2 separate regions of the Homo sapiens genome follow, and region 1 is linked to region 2. Evidence: fine-mapped expression QTL. A gene starts in region 2. The other region holds a variant in brackets. All regions are shown on one strand. Distances are between the middles of the regions.

The links. PIP is the estimated chance that this variant, and not a neighbour inherited with it, causes the effect.
Region 1: its variant is fine-mapped to the expression of MYB in lung (TOPMed, PIP above 0.99). The same link has a PIP of 0.9 or more in monocytes.

The regions. Positions count from the first base shown.
Region 1 is chr6:135,203,470-135,206,377 of GRCh38, reverse strand. The region is part of intron 15 of MYB (MYB proto-oncogene, transcription factor); the gene reads right to left. The region is part of intron 2 of LOC105378011 (a long non-coding RNA gene); the gene reads left to right. Among named protein-coding and RNA genes, the nearest start is that of MYB, 24 kb to the right of the region's middle. The variant C/T (reference allele first, on the strand shown) is at 1,277.
Region 2 is chr6:135,180,022-135,182,929 of GRCh38, reverse strand. MYB (MYB proto-oncogene, transcription factor) reads right to left here and starts at 1,622. Exons shown (of 16, transcript NM_001130173.2): 1 at 1,394-1,622. The coding sequence starts at 1,416. RefSeq lists silencers at 375-454, 1,504-1,553, 1,614-1,833, 1,904-1,953, 2,394-2,503 and 1 more.

The DNA of each region.
Region 1 (2,908 bases), 23 kb before region 2:
CTCCCAGGCTAGAGTGCAGGGGTATAATCATAGCTCACTGTAACCTTGAACTCCTGGGCTTAAGGGATCCTCCTGCCCTAGCCTCCCAAGTAGCTAGGATTACAGGTATGTACCACTACACCCAGCTAATTATTATTATTATTATTATTATTTTTTTTTTTTTTTTTTTTTTGAGATGGAGTCTCGCTCAGTCACCCAGGCCGGAGTGTAGTGGCGCTATCTCAGCTCACTGCAAGCTCCGCCTCCTGGGTTCATGCCATTCTCCTGCCTCAGCCTCCCAAGTAGCTGGGACTACAGGTGCCCGCCACTACGCCCGGCTAATTTTTTTGTATTTTTAGTAGAGACGGGGTTTCACCGTGTTAGCCAGGATGGTCTCGATCTCCTGACCTCGTGATCCGCCCACCTCGGCCTCCAAAAGTGCTGGGATTACAGGCGTGAGCCACCACGCCCAGCCCAGCTAATTATTTTTTAATAGAGACTGAGTCTCACTATGTTGCCCAGGCTGGTCTCAAATTCCTGGTCTCAAGCTATCCTCCAGTCTTGGCTTCCCAAAGTATTGTGATTACAGGCATGAGCCACTGAGCCTGGCTTTATAGCAGATTATTAAAATATATCTGGTCAGTGTAAACCAGTAAACTATATGGTTTAGACAGGAGTATTGACTCTAAAATTAACTTTCAAGTCTCAATTATTCAGTTTGATAGAATTGACAAATATTACCTTCACCATACACAACTTAATCTCAGTGTACAGATGTTAGAATTCATAAAGTGCCAATATGACTCACTGATAGACAGGAGAATACAGATTAATAAAATAGAGCTATAACTTAATTTTGAGTTTCAAAGATAACCAATATTTCCATTAAATAAAATACAAATATACTGATAAAGCTCAATACTGAACTATGGGTTTCAACTTATGTAATGGTAATTGTCCCCAAGTATATTGATGTGTTGGCTTTTTGAAATTTAGAACAGACTTTTTCTGTACTACTACAAATACAAGTTGGCCCCAGACTAGGTTAGAAAATATATGCAAAACTTAATCTAACTTAATTAAAACACGAATAGCAGTAGTTGAATTCTGTTCTCTAGAAACCAAGAGCCAAGTAACTTAGGTGGGAATAATTAAAAAAAAAAAAAAAAGCAAAAGCTTTTCTTCTGGACCTAAGAACAGCTTTCAGGAAAATTTTGAAATGGCTGCCCTTTGCCTTGAAATCTTTGTAACTCCCTTTCTGGGTTCCTCTTATGTCTGGGTGGAGTTCATTCTCTTC[C/T]TCATCTCCCAATTATTTGTGATATTCTTTTTTTTGAGATGGAGTCTCATTCTGTCACCCAGGCTGGAGTGCAGTGTCATGATCTCGGCTCACTGCAGCCTCTGCCTCCTGGGTTCAAGCGATCCTCCTGTCTCAGCCTCCCGAGTAGCTGGGATTAGTAGAGATGGGGTTTCACCGTGTTGGCCAGGCTGGTCTCAAACTCCTGACCTCAAGTTATCCACCCGCCTTGGCCTCCCAAAGTGCTGGGATTACAGGCATGAGCCACTGCGTCTGGCCTCTTTGTGGTATTCTGAGTCTTCTCCACACGGGGCCAACTCCAGCCTCACTGACGCAGGAACTTGTCCAGATTCCCCATAAATACTGACTCCCTGTCTCACATTCCAGTCCACAGCCATTTTACCAAAACAATTGCTGTCAGAGAGAGGCCAGGAAGGAAGCAATCTGATTTAATTAAACAAAATGTGCTTGCAATCCTTATTTTACAATAATACTACGCACTGGCTAGGTGCGGTAGCTCACACCTGTAATCCCAGCACTGTAGGAGGCCGAGGTGGGCAGATCACTTGAAACCAGGAATTCGAGACCTGCCTGGCCAACATGGCAAAACCTTGTCTCTATCCAAAAATACAAAAAAACGGCTGGGTTGCCGGTGGCTCACACCTGTAATTCCAGCTAATTGGGAGGCTGAGGCATAAGAATCACTTGAATCTGGGAGGCGGAGGTTGCAGTGAGCCGAGATCACCCCACTACACTCCAGCCTGGGCCACCGGGTAAGACCCTGTTTCAAAAAACAAAGCAACATCAACAAAAAACCCTGAAAAACTAAGCATCACAAATACTTACCGGGCAAGTTTTCAGATTCTCACAATTTGGAAGGAGAAACTATCACAAGAATGGGAAATCCCTTTAAGGTAATGGGCAGACTCAAAGGCTGCTGTCCTATGATCGTGCCATTTAACTTACAGCAAGAAATATGACCTTCAGCTTCTGAATCCAGGCTCTTCACTTCCTCTAGGGTTATGAAGTTTCCCTCTGCATGGCACAGGGGGATGGAGGAGAGGGCTCTGCAGGTGGCTGGGTATTGGGCTATTTAATGTCAGAAACTGCTTTAAATAATTTAGGGAAGCAAAATTTGCATTCTTATTTACATTTGGCTCAGGATTAATTTGGAATTGGTTATATTTCATCAACACACACCCACTTTAGGGTTACAAGGGAAATCTCTTTTGATATTAAAACCTGACAGCAGATGGTCAACTTCAGATCGGCCTCACAACATTGACAGTTGACTTTCTTATTCTGACAGTCAAATACATTGCAATTATTTTCTGTCTGACTAATTTCAGACTTCATTTAAAATTGGAACAGTCTCTGAGCTTTGGTTGCCTAGGGATACAGCATAAAAAATAAAAAATTTGGAACATAAAGTAAACTATATTGATATATTTTTATAAAACATTTGAGGGCAGAAGAAGATAGTGACACACGTGTAATACATCTTAGTCTCAGTCACAGTAAGAAATGTTTCATTTCATCATGCTTTGGGGAATCTGCACTGATAAAAATTTCTAGCATGTCTCATATGAGTAGCAAAAAGGAATTATTGGATTTTTCTAGACATCAAGAATTGTA
Region 2 (2,908 bases):
GCGGCCAGGCTCCGGAGTAGGCATAGGGAGCCCGGAGCTCCCCCAAGTCGCCCTCTCGTCCCCAGAGCCCAACCAAGCCCCGGCGCTGCTCCCCGCCCAGCCCAGCCCGCGGGTGCTGCTGCAGGGTCTCCACCCACGCTCTTTGCAACTTCCCAGCGCCGCGCGGGGACCAGCGCCCGCAGGCTCAACAACAAACCAGTAGGAGAAAATCAAACAATCTAAGGAAAGGCGAATGGATTTGCTTTGCCTCCATGGACTTCGCCTTAGAACTCCTTCGCGAGGGTCTGTCCGGTCACCGCGCCTCGGCCGGGGCGACCTAAGGCGGCTGAAGGAGGGTGCGAGAAGGCGCGGCGACCTCAGCCGCATCCACGTGTGCGCGCCGCGCAGGGACCTTTCGCCTGGGGGCAGAGCCCGCGGGGATCGCGTCCCGGTTGCGCGGCAGCGGCCTTGGGTGCTGCCGGCCTCTGTCCCCTTGAGCCGAGTGGCGACTGCGACGGCTGCCGAGCTAGCCCTGGCACCCGCCGCTCGCAGGGAGCCCCGGCGTGTGCTGCTGGGAAAGTCCAGAGGCCGGTGGAGACTGGGGAACGAGCAACTGACAGTTCGGACGAGGATTTCCCTCCTCCTCCTCCTCTCCCTCTTCCCATCTGTCCGGCCAAAAATGTGAAGGGACTGCACCCATCTTCCCGGCGAGCCTCCCTAAGTGCAGTGACATGTGCGACGGCGGCGCGTGTGGGTGCGCGTGCAATGTTTGCAGTGGAAGTAAAAGCCTTTCAGAGAAAAATGATTCGAACCTCCAAAACCAGGTCTTAAGACAATTTGCAAAAGTAGAGACCCCTTTATCCCCCTAAAATCTGCTTTTCAGCCGCCTGTCAGCTGACACTGGTCCTCGCCTCCATAAAGAATGAATGAAATTTAAATGAACTACCTGCAGCTACTAAACAATCCAGCATTTTCCCTGTATCTGCCATATGCTCTGCACTTCCAAGTCCAAACATATCTCAATGCATCCAGCAATTACGCTGCGGATCCCTCGCCGACACCCGCGGCATCAAGCCAGGCACCTGGTGGGCTCCCCGGGGCTGGTGGGCACCGCTCTGCCCTCGGCTGGAACGTGCTTTCTTTTTCCCCCTAAAGAAAAATGTATCCCCATGCAACTTGCAAAATGAGCCGCAGGGCGTGCTTCCCAACGTCCGGATACATTTCCCGCAAAGACTCTTCCATTCATCAGTCTCTGGAGCGGCTTCTGCTGCCGAGGCAGGGGCTCCAGGTCCTCGGAGGGTCTGACAGCCCCTCAGATGATCCCGGAACGAATTCCCACCTGCTCCCGGGAGCCTGGCGCCCCGCGCGCCCCCGCGCGCCCCCGCCCTCGGCCGCCCGCCCGGCTCCCCGTTACCTGTGCCGGGGTCTTCGGGCCATGGCGCGGCGGGCGCGGGGCTCCGCCGAGAGCCGCGGGGACCGCACCGGGCTGCCGCCTCCCGCTGCCCGCCGCCTGCCTGCGTCCCTCCCCGGCTGCGCAGCGGCGCTCCGCACCGCTGGGGCGAAGTTTCTCAGGAGAAAGAGGAGGAGGAGGTCACGGAGGAGGAGGAGAAGGAGGAGGAGGAAACAGGTTGATATTAAAGTGTAAACTCTGTAAACAGAGATGCCATCAAACAAAGAGCTTTGGACACTCCCCCTCCCGCCAAATCTGGCGCCCCTGCAGTGCGCACGCGCCCTGCCCGCCGCCTCCGCGGTCGCCCTGGCTGCCGCCCGCGGGGCTGCCGGGCTGGCCGGGTCGCCGCTCCCATTCGGCGCTCGCGCCGCCGCGGTGCGCCTAGCGCGCCGCGAGGCCCGGGAGGCGCGCGGGCAGGGAGCCCGGGGCCAGGGAGGGGTGGCCGGGGGCCGCGACGGCGCCTTTTCCTGAGCAAACCCCGCTCCCGGGTCGCGGCGGCGCCGACCCGCGCCCAGTCCCGCCGCCTCCCCTCCTCCCTGGCTGCCGCACCGCGGTCGCCCGGCTCCGCGTGCTCCCGGGCAGCGGGACCAGAGCTCCTCCAGCTCCCACTCACTGTCGCGGGGGCGGCAAGCGGTGGGGGGAAATTCCCGCACAGAAGATTGGATTTTCGTCAAGGTTTACAACTGTGCCCTCTGGAGACGGGGAAATTAGGAGTTGGAGGAGTAGGGGATGTGAGCATATGTATTCATAGGCTGTTTGGCTAGGGTTTTTTTTCCTTCTTCTTAAATAAATAACATCTCTAATTTAACTTGTTAGTGACAAAGGACGCTTCAATACAAGTGGGCGGCAACCATCACCGCTCACTAATGGAGCGCCCCAGCGGAGCTTTCACTCCCCTCCCGGATCCTGCAGCCGCCACCGTCGTATTGTCACATGTCCTTCACTCTCACCCCAGCACACACCCGGGCCCCACCCACCCCGCCCCGCCCGGCCCAGGCGGTGCCCACCGCACACCTTTGCTCCCCTCCCTGCACAGAGCGCGCACCCTGGATTGCACACCTGCAAAAAAAAAAAAAAAAAAAAAAAAAAAAAAAAAATACACGGGGGTCCAGACAGCCCGCCCCTAGCAGAACTCAGGAAACCCCACGTTTGCATGCATGGTTTTAGAAGTAAAACAGTTTGTGATTTTGGAGGTCGGTATCCCTGCTTAGTGTCATTTGAGGGCTCTATTTTACGAGATAAAAGTCAGCAAAGGCTTTCGTGTTGTTTAATGAGGGTCTCCAGAAGTAAAGGAAGAAGATAAGTGCTGAATTTATAAGGATTGATGACTGGGGGGATTTTAGGGGAGTTTTAGTTTTACTTCCGTTTATAGATTAGAACCATTGGGGATTTTTTTTTCATTCTCTGTACACACTAATGTATTTTTCCTTTAATCTTTTAGGAGTTTGAGACTTCTGCTGACTGGGTTTGTGGGTGTCC